Linked DNA regions of Homo sapiens: region 2 is linked to region 1. The links come from fine-mapping of genetic effects on gene expression. A gene starts in region 1. The other region holds a variant in brackets. All regions are shown on one strand. Distances are between the middles of the regions. Region 1 holds the start of KLF7 (KLF transcription factor 7). Region 2 overlaps KLF7 (KLF transcription factor 7).

Region 1 (5,375 bases):
TTCCAGGTTGTGAGACCTTGACCAACTTACTTAGTATTTCCAAGCGTGGGTATCTTCATCCATAAAGTTGGGGATACTTTGGGGCTGTCCTTAAGATTAAATGAGACATTGCATATAAAGTGTTTATGCGCATACGGCACATTCGAAGTGCTTAATAAATGGGAACTATTATTTGTAAAATCTTCAAACTCACGTTAACCGATATGTCCTATTTTATTCAAAAATTGTTATAATGTAACACACACAAAATAAGTTCACTTGAGTCTCAAGTACCAAATTATATGGTTGGTCTTGCCTCACCTTTTGCCTCTAGTTTTCTATACCCAAGTTCCTTTCCTTCCCCTATTATTCATGAACATGTTTTTTGCCCTAGTGTTTCTCAATGGTTCCTGCCCATCCCCCCAGTTGAAATAGCATGGGGGTCAGGGGAGAGCATGGAGAAGGGGAGACCTTGTAACAAACTAGCAAGGGGTTTCTACCTTTCCTCTATCTCCAAGATTCTATTAATAGTATATTCTCCTAAAGGTCCTATTAGTTTACATAGCTCAAGTGGGGAGACAATGATAGCTAATATTTAGTATTCACCTAATAGTGTCAGATACTATGCTAGGTGAGTTACCAAAGATATTTTGACTCTTCATAACAACTAGACAACGCGGATCCCACTATTTCTGTTTCTGAGATGGGTAGATACAAGTTCTGACCCAGTAATTCGCTCAAAGTCGTGCAGCTAGTTAGCTGGCAGCGTCCTTGCACATCTAATTGCAGATGCATCTGCATCTACATTAGAGTAAATGTTCCAATTATACTCATACAATGAATGCTATGAATCTGGCCAACAGAATTCCAGACACTAACAAGTAAATAAATCAGGCTTTCCTCAATCCCAGTAATTCATGTTTAATATTCCTTGGCAAATACTGAATTTCAATCTGTGCTTATTTCATAGAGTAGAATCTTTCAAATGTTGTGTTATCGAGTCCTACATAGTCAAAGGGAGGGGAAAGACAAGGAGGGTGATTAAGGTGAAGCGTTTCTTCCATTACTGGTAGAACGAAGTTTCTCATCTCTTAAGCACCGAATTCTGCAATCATTCCAAAAGTGGAAGCTCAGCTCACAGCGCATTTTGGGGAAGCTTAAACCACACTAACCATTTAAGGTCAAGCAAACAATTGGCCAACCCTAACGTGAATTGTGCAGGGTTTTCATCTCAGATGTAACAGATCTCTCTATGTCTACATCCCAACTCCAGAAAACGAGAAATCGAGTTCCTCCTCTCACCATCGAAGCTCTGCAGACACCTCGCTGGAGACCCCATGGTGAGCCTCATCACGTAAAGGCCCCCTCGCAAGCTGCCGGCTCCAGCTTGCGCCCCACGTCTACCTAGGCTCCCTCTAGCCTCTTTAACGCACAGTCGAGCAACAGGCCCCTTGCAATCAACTCTAGCCGCCGGACTCCCGACCAGGTCTCTCGCTCGGGGTCAGAAGGAGGCGCGGGAGGGAGGGCGGCGGCGGCGGCGCCCGCGGGGCGGGGCGGGGACTGTGCGCAAGCGGGGGGCGGGCGCAGGCCGCGGTCTCGCTCCGCTCCCCTTTGTTCTCTCCCATTGTGTGGCACTTCCTCCTCAGGCGCTTCTTCTCTGCACCCTGGCAGCCCGTGGGGAGTTCGGGAAGGGGCCCTGGATGCCTTTTCTGCTTGTTTTTGAGTACGTGAGGACCTCCCCGGCACCGCCTCGCGCGGGTCCCTGCCCCGTGCCCAGGCGGAGGCGGGGTGGCCACTGTCCTTCCTTCCCGCTCCGCGCCCTCGGCGGCTTCCCCGCGGCCCCCTGCGCCGCGCCCCCTCCAGGAGGCGTCCTGACCCCGCACTCCGGCCTTTCACCTCCCGACCGTCAGCCTCAGGGCCGCCGCGGCGACGCGCGACCCCTTCCCTCTGAGGGGCGCGGGCTCCGGACGCGCCGGGCTCTGCCAGGCATCTAGTGGAGGGTCGGAGGTCGGCGACCAGCCCGAGCCCAGCCGTCCCGGGAGCTGGCGCGAGTGTCGCCACGACCCTCCCTGTCCCTTGCGCTCGCGCTGCCCGGCCGCCGGGCGGCCGCCTCAGCCCCCTTATATAGCCCTCTAAAAATAGCTCGCCTCGCACCGCCTTGTAAGGCAGCAGGGAGATCCGCAGCGTGCCAATCCGCGCCCGCCGCCAGGGCCAAGCCCCGCCCCAGGCTCTGCTCCGGGCTCCCCATTGGTCCTCAGTGACTTCATGAGCCCCCTGTTTACCTTACATGGTCACACGCGGCCTAATGGACGCCCTCCTCGAGATCCCACGGCTGCGCGGAGAACCGAACGGAGGGAGGGAGTTTGGGGAGGGGGAAGAGCAGGAGGAGGAGAAAAGGGAGGGGGAAGACTACAAACTAGCAAGGATGGGGTGGGGGGTGGGGAGGGAAGGGAAGGGGGGGGAAGAGAAGCGATCGCGAGAGAAAAAAATGCAACCTCCCAAAATAAAGAGCAAAGATTGCATTAGGAGCGAACAGCGCTGCAGAAATAGATGGCAGCTTCGTGTCAGTGAGTTTGCATCCCCCTTCCTGATCCACGAGCTGGAGTGATTAGAGCCCTGGAAGGGAATTGTTACTCCCGTGGAGAAGTCCCCTTTTCCTGGCAGTCGTCTGCACTGTACACGCTGGATGCCTCTCTCCATCCACCCCACTCACTCGCTCCTCTCTCACCTCCTCTCTCCCTCTCCTGCATTGATTTTTTTTTTTCCTTTTTAGTTGACTGAAACAAAACAAAACAAAAGGGCCACTGGATGTCTGCCTTCTTGGGGGGTGAGCCAGACAGACTGACAAACAAACAGCCCCAACTGTGTTCGGGGGAGGGTTTCGCCTCCCGTTTTGCCCGGCAGCAGCAGCATGGACGTGTTGGCTAGTTATAGTATATTCCAGGAGCTACAACTTGTCCACGACACCGGCTACTTCTCAGCTTTACCATCCCTGGAGGAGACCTGGCAGCAGGTGAATGATTTAAATTACTTGTGTAAATCGTGTGGTGGCGGCGGAGACGCAGGGGCTGCGTTGGTGTGGGCTCTGGGTTGAAATTTTTGTTTGTTTGTTTGACTTTTTTTTCTTCCTTTTTGGCTGTCTGTTGTTGAAAATGTTTTCTGAAACAGTCATCTGCGCTTACCTCTCCACCCACCCCTAACCTCGTAGAGTGCCGAGCTGAGCAGCCGGTGCGAGCTGCCTGCGTTTCAGTCGCCAACACACATCCCTGCGCACACGTTGTCGGGTTTGCTGTCCCCTATCAGAGACCTGCCGAACTTCTGGGGTTCGGAGGAGCCGGGTGGGAAGGTGGTTTGGGGTGTTAGGAGCGATTGCTGACAGGGACCACGTTCTCGCATGCATGAGCTCTACCCACTTGATACCTGAAATCAGGTTCATCTGTTTCAACTGGTGCTTATGACCATCGGATGGGGGGCGGGGGAGGGTGGGCAGGAGCAAAGCGGAGTGTTTTTCAGTAATTAGCGAGTGTCAATAAAGAATAGGAGCTTGATTTTGAGATTAGAAGGTAGGCAAAAGAGAGAAGAGCCCACTGACAAAAGATACTCAAGGAGGACGGGAAGATGTAGCTGAGGCTGACAATGAATTGTAGGTTTTCCCAGTGTGATCCCTCCAGAAAGAGAACACCCTCTATGCGTGTCCTTGTTTCTCTTTTTTGTTTAGGGTCCTTCTCTAGTTAGGCAGCACAACCTCGGACAAAGGCTGATGTGTGCTTCCATGCCTTTGACTTTGTCTTAGAGGACTAGTTAAGAAACTCCCAGGATGCTGAAGGGCACCGATGCCAAGTTGGCTAGCCGTCCCAGGGAGGATGAAGTGGGGCTGGTGACAAGTTCACTGGGCTTTGTGAAGTGGAATAAAGAAAGTGCTGGTCAGTGGAAAGTGCTGGCTCTGCTGCGGAAACAGTGGTTTTTTTCAGCAGCGATTAGGAGCTGCTGAGGGGACATTCTGCAGGAAAGATGGTGGGTGGGGGCGGGGGGACACGGGTATTTAAAAATTGTACAGTGTGCACCATGGAAAGTCCAAGAAGACAGTCCGGATTTGCACATAGGAAGTGTGAACTTGTACAGTCCGTCCTGGAGAAACCCGCTTGCCCTTGGGGGGAGGGCTGTGAGAGGCTCGGTGTGTGGCTGCTCGTGTAATTTCTTCGCTTAGTGACAGCAGCTTGTTAAGGCTAATGAACGGCTGAATTTCCTCTGCCGGGATCCAAAGCAGGATTTGCCAGCTTGAGGCTGAGATGTAACAGTCTCTGCTTTAGCAAAAGAGGTTTGGCTTTTGGTATAAGGAGCCGAGTGGCAAGGCGGATCCTTTAACTGTACCATTGTTGCTAGTTCACTTCTGGTCAGAGGCTGTGAGTTTTCCTCCAGGTATTGGCGTCTGGTGTCTCTGTGTCCACACATGCATTCTTGTCCAAGGACGCTAGCAGATGCTTGACTCTGTCTCTCTGTAAACACATACACAGTTCACATATTTTTAGAATAAAGTCTTTCTTCAATGCATCCTTTTCCTTATCCTTAACGAGAGTGTGTCTCATGAAGGGTCTCACTGGATCTTTTTCTTCCTTTTATTTCCAATGCTAATTAAACCAAAATCTTCTGAAATAGCCTTCATTTCACACTGTCAGCCCACTGGTATGGAATCGGTTGCATATTAACAACTGTCTAGACAGGTTAGAGAAGGGAATCTGTTGATTTAGTCAGCCTGCCCAAGGCAGCCCTTGTTTGTGACTAACTGTTAAGCAGTGTTAGAAGGAAGAAAGTTGGCTTTATTTGTTAGAACGTTCCCTACTGATGAATCATGCAACTTTGTTTTGGTTCAAGTTTTCAGAGTAGTAAAGCCAGATTTGGAGGAAGGTCTCTTCACAGGAAACCTGCTTTTCTAGATCTGGCTAGACCATCCAGGACAAACTCTAGATCTGCAAAGAAACATCATCGGTTTGACAACTAGAGGATGTATTAGATCTATTGTTTCCTAAGAAGCCATCTCTGCTCTTCCTTCTCCCCTCCTCCCCCTGCTCCTCTGCCTCCTCCCCATTCAGGGAAGCTCTAGTTTAGTTTCTACAGGCAAAGGATTTTTCACCCCTCGGAACCCCCTCATTTTTTGCCTTAACCCTCTCCAACTGCCAGCCACTCTCACCTTAAAACCCTTAGCCAACTTATTCAGCGTCATGCTTATAGCCAATGCTGATGCATAGCTTGTGGGGAAGCACTAATAAACAATATATCACTCCAGTGAGCTTTATGTTCTGGACTCCGTAATCACAACTGCTCTATATAAAGGCGACTAGGACCATAGGTTTACACTGATGACAAAACCTTTAACCTCTAGCCCTTCCTTCTTCCCC
Region 2 (5,375 bases), 84 kb after region 1:
CCACTTGCCACAAATTTAGTATCATGTTTATATACTTTTCAAGTTTATGGTCTTACAGTTCTGTAGGTTAGAAACTTCTAGGTTAGAAGTCCAACACAAGTCTCACTGGGCTAAACTCAAGGTTTTGGCAGAGCTGCATTTTTGTTCTGGAGGCTCTAGGGGAATATCCATTTCCTTTCCTTTTCCAGCTTCTAGAAGCTGCCCACATTCCTTGGCTCATGATGCTATTCCTCCATCATTAAAGCTGTTGAGTCCTTCTCATGCTGACATCTCTCTGGTTCTATCAATTCCTTCTCCCACTTTTAAGAACCGTTGTGATGGCATTGAGCCCAACCAGACAATCCAGAATAATCTCCCTGTTTAATGTCAGCTGATTCATAAGTTAATTCCATCCACAACTTTAATTCTTTATCATGTAACCAAACATAGTCCTAGTGTCTGGGCATGAAGTGTAGACATTTTGGAGGGAGCATTATTCTGCCTACCAGAAGCTCCTTAAATTGACAGCCCAGTTCTCTCTTCTCCTCAATGTGGTTAAGCAGATGTGACTAAGAGTGTGGGCTCTGGCGTCAGACTGCCTGTGTTCAAATCCTCTTTCTGATGAATGTTTCATCTGGTAGTGGGAATAAGAATGGTACCTTCTTTATAGGGATCTTATAAGGATGTTACATTTAAAAAAGAAATACCTACAAACAGAATGTCCCAACTTGGATCTTCTTTCTCCAGGTTGTTGGGATAAAAGAAGGAGGGAAAGAGAGAAAAAGAAGGAAGAAAGAAGGCAGGGAGAAAGAGAGGGAGAGAGGGAAAGAGAACAGGCAGTGGGCAATACTGAGTTGTACCCTCAGGACATGAATTATGCCAGTTAGACGCTAAATTCCCTGCGGGCTGTATTGATTTTTCTGTGTACCAGTGACATGGAGTACTAGTTTTTAAAGAAAACTTAGTGACACTGTTTTATTGCAAACCAAACCCCCTTTAGAGGCATCGCTAAGGGATTATCTAAATATCTTCCTCATACAAAGTCAGGGCTGGAAGTAAGTGGGTATAATTGGAATTGTTATTATGCAGCATGTTATTGGATTAGATTGTTTTCAGTTGTACTTTTCGCATTTTTATGTGGTTTTCGTTTTACTCTTGTCCCATTTCACTTCATTCCCTTGGAGTTCTATCCTACACATGTGCCTATTTAAGGAATGGACACAAACAGGGGGTGTGGAGAATGTTGCGGTCAAGGGAAAGGGTGGATATTTTTTGTTTGTTTTAAGAATGAACAAACATAGGGAAATCCTGCCCTGAACAGGAAACCCTGCTAACCTGAACAGTGTAGCTTGCTAACATTCTGACAGGAGTTTTGGACTGTAGGGGTGTCTCAGGCTTCAGGGAGCCTGGGAACTTTCTCATAGGTTAGAAAGCAGCTAGTTTCAGGCGAATGATCCAGGGGGAGAGCATACACTCAGAGCTCAGAATGACTGCTGTCATGTAGGCTGACTTCACTGGGATTTCATTCAGAACCTGAGATTGAAGCCTGCAGGGATTTGGAAACACCCATACTGTCAGGTTTCTGTATGTTATAGACTGCAGTTAGCCTCCAAGGGTATTTATGCGCTCAGGTAACTAAGAAGAACAGAATTAGATTTGTCTTTAGGCTTCGTTGGATCCAGCTTCTCTGATATTATCATCTGGACTCTTTCTATCCCCCAGAACCCCTTTTTCTCTGTTGACTTCATTCTCCAGCCAACTCTTTACCACAAGGGCAGTATAGACACCAGTCACTCCAGGATCCCAGTGGAAAGAGAGCTTCTCTCTTCCAATAATTTCAGCAGATGTCCCAGGGCTGGTTCTCATTGGCCTTTACAGGTCACATGGCTGTTGTTTAGCAGAGTACTGTGGCCACAACTTCAGCCTCACACAAATGAGAATGCAGAAGGGTTGGTACCCAAGAGAATATCAAATAGCTGGTGTTAGAGGAAAGAGGAAAGAAGATGACCACTGGATCCACTCTGACATGAAGAAGGCACTCAGTTATGGGCCTTAGGTTCCAAGAAACACCTTAGCCTCAGTTTCCTTCACCCCCCTCCTTTCTGCCCCCAACACACACACACACAAAGCGTGAGAATACTTACCATGGAGGGTTGGTGAGGATGGCGTGATATTGGGAAAACCCTTAGCATAGTGCCTACATATCGTAACATACTCAATAACTGTGAGCACCCTTCTTCATCCTTTTTTTTTTTTTTTTTTGACTTGAATATAGAGTGTCTGATAAGCCTGTAAGTAGTATCACAAGCAGTATTTCTAGGCTTTCATTGTAAAGTTTAGGGTTGAAATCTGGGTGTTGAAATTTCAAAGTTCCACCCTTTGATGATATAGACTAATTATTCTTTATTATATTTACAGTATGCAGGCATGACACAGGTTTCAAAAGCACTTTCCCATTCTTCTTTAATAATCACAATTATGATCATAACAGTTAACATGCACTGAGATCCTACGATGTGCCAGTCCGTATTCTAAGTACCTTGCATAGATCATCTCATTTAATCCTCACAACCCACCTATGAGGTAAATGCTATAATTATCCCCACTCTACTGAGGAGGAATTAAAGTACAGACAGGTTAATGTGCTCCGAGTCACACAGCTATTGGAAGAGATAGGATTTAAACCCAAACATTTTGTCCCTTAAACTTACCTTCCCAACACATGGCCCTGTTTCTCAATGCATGTGCACTGTCTCTGTTTAAAGTAAGGGAAATCATTTCCTAAGGAGTGATGCAAGTCAAGCTGTTTGCTGGGAGTTCTCTAATATCCTTGTTGTTTATATCTCCTAGGTGTTTTTCCAGGTCTGACCATCTTGCCCTCCACATGAAGAGACATATCTAAAAAACCGAAAGGCCAGAGTTGCCATGGCATCGGCTAGTGTCTAAAGGAAACGCCATGAGGCAGGGGGCTGGACTTCAGGCGGGGACCCATTGCCTCGCAGAAGAAAGTTCTCACTTATAAACCTCTGTACACACACACACACACACACACA[T/CACAT]ATACACACACTCACAGACCCACACACATACACACTGTCATGCACTCAACTATATTTAAAATATATACGTCTATTCTTTATGCCTTGCCCTAGCCAGATGGAAGAAGATGAAGAAGGAAACCAGGTGAACTCAGCAAGGCAGACTGGCTGCTTACTTCAGCACTATTGGAATTATTTCCCGCTGTTGCCAATGGAAATCAAAGAAAATGGATGTGACGTCTGTGCAGGTGGACGGCAGTCCGAGGGGCTTATTTCACTTGCTTCTCAGTGCAACTTGATAGGAGAATCCAGCATCTTAAAGTTGCATATGTGTAGCACTAATGTTTCTTTTTAAATAGTTGGGGGAAAATGACCTAGAAAACCAAATTGCAGTTTGGTAGCCAAAATTAACTCTTGGTTTATTTGTCCTTTGTGTGTGAAAAGTCCTACTATTCCGTGCGTCAGACTTCCTCACAGAACTGTTGACTGGTTTTGGTTCTTAGTACTATTGAGATCTTTCGCGTCGATCCCAACGGCCTTAGCGGCGGCAGACTGGAATAACACCTTACACCTTTCTGGCCTGCATTTCTGTAGACTTCACTCTCAAGGGAGGAGTTTTCTTTTCTTACGTTTTGACTTTTGCACACCATATGCACTAGGGATTCTGGAAACTTCTAGCATGACTGCAAAGTGGCCAAGAGAATAAAGTCCTTGATGATAAATCACAGTATATCCCTTGAGCCTCACCTTATTGCCAGTGCTAGATTTTTTCTTTTTAATCTCTCCGTTTTTGCTAACGAAAACTTGAAAAGCTTATTTGGAAGCTTAAATGTTTTATCTTTTCTCCATGGACTAAACCTCTCCAGGACTCTCTCGGCACCTGGATGTCCAGCTCTCGAAGCAGCCAGTCAGATGGGACATCACAGTTCTCTCATCCTCCTTGAGGCATGATGACCTCAGCTCATAGTGATCAACCGTTGTGCTGTGTGTCATTGCTACCCCATAACCAGTTACAGCATAGATGTCGCTAGTCTCAGAGGGCAGCTGCGTATTTAATTTAACTCTGGTTTATGACCTGACAAAAAGCCAAAAATATCACTCTTTCCAGGAGTGGGGAAAACTGAGGATGCCTCCCAAGTCTAGTGGCTTCACAAAAGATCATCCTGTCTTCTCTGTCATGCCCACTGAGCTCCTATTCCCCTACGTGTTACAATACACAATTTAAAACGCCATTGTGGGAGTGAAGGGTTGACATTTAAGGAAAAGGTTGAGGTGTTTCTCTCATGGGCTGTCTAAAAGGAGAGACACGTTTCTTTCTTTCCTTTTTTTTTTGGCTAGGCCCACCATGACTTGTGACCTAGAACCCCCAGGATTAACAGAGGCCTCACATTTACTCTGCAAGCTGACTCCAAAGGAGTCTACAGTCCTTACTTGTCATGCCACACTCACACATCCAGTAGTGGTCTCTATCTACCCGCATTCCTAGCTAGCTGGCACTGGCCTCAACTCCAAAGACTGCCTTTAGGACCATCAAATGGCCTATGCAAGCAAGCGGGGTGGTTATTAGGACAGATTGTATATTTTGTATATTCTGGGACCATCCCTTCAAGACACGTCTATAAAACAAAAATGGCGCTTGGTCCACACACGGTTGCTGCTCCCTCCTACCAGCTGGCTCCCCTCCTGTCCTCCTTTGACTGTTTGACTCATTGACTGTTAAAATGCCACCCCATACATATTTGGGATGCAAAACTGAAGTCAAAAGGAAATAATATAAGAAACACAAACACATATATGACAGCAACCTTCAAGATCTGGGTTTTCAGCTTTCTGCAACCTTTGTTTTCACTGAAATGTTGAAACTACTCGTCTGAGGGCAAAGGAACCTCCTCACAAATGCTATAGCTGCCAATTGGACACTTGGGGCATTTCGAGGTCTGGCCCTAAGAATTTACTTTCTCCTTTTCCTTTTTTCTATTTAGACCAAAAAAAACAAAAACAAAAACAAAAAAAAAAACAAAATAATACAAAACGAAAAAAAAAGAAAGAACACCCGTTAACACACACGCGCACACACACACAAAATCTGTCCATTTGCCGGAGGCAATTGTATGTATGTTAGTTGGAGGGTATTAAAAATCAGTTTTATTCCAAAGATTTAAAACTAGACATGACTTAAAAACAATTTCTGGAGCACTGCTTGCTGACAATCTCGTAGTTCTCTGCTGCATTTGAGTGCATTTTGTGGCCAGTCCATCAGGGCGTACCATGGGATTATATTTGAATGTGTGGTGCATCCTTCCTGGATGAAGGATGTGTGAGGGACCTTGAACCTCAGCTGTATTAAACTGTAGCGCCTCCAGT

What was found.
Region 2: its variant is fine-mapped to the expression of KLF7 in whole blood (INTERVAL, PIP above 0.99).

What each region holds. Positions count from the first base shown.
Region 1 is chr2:207,163,084-207,168,458 of GRCh38, reverse strand. It overlaps KLF7 (KLF transcription factor 7), which reads left to right and starts at 2,511. Exons shown (of 4, transcript NM_003709.4): 1 at 2,511-2,992. The coding sequence starts at 2,891. MIR7845 (microRNA 7845) reads right to left here and starts at 2,059; the gene lies at 1,961-2,059. RefSeq lists silencers at 1,000-1,049, 1,670-2,309 and enhancers at 667-1,375, 1,376-2,083, 2,084-2,792, 2,800-2,899, 3,501-4,209 and 1 more.
Region 2 is chr2:207,078,719-207,084,093 of GRCh38, reverse strand. KLF7 (KLF transcription factor 7) reads left to right here. Exons shown (of 4, transcript NM_003709.4): 4 at 2,830-5,375. The coding sequence ends at 2,881. Among named protein-coding and RNA genes, the nearest start is that of MIR2355, 29 kb to the left of the region's middle. The variant T/CACAT (reference allele first, on the strand shown) is at 3,033.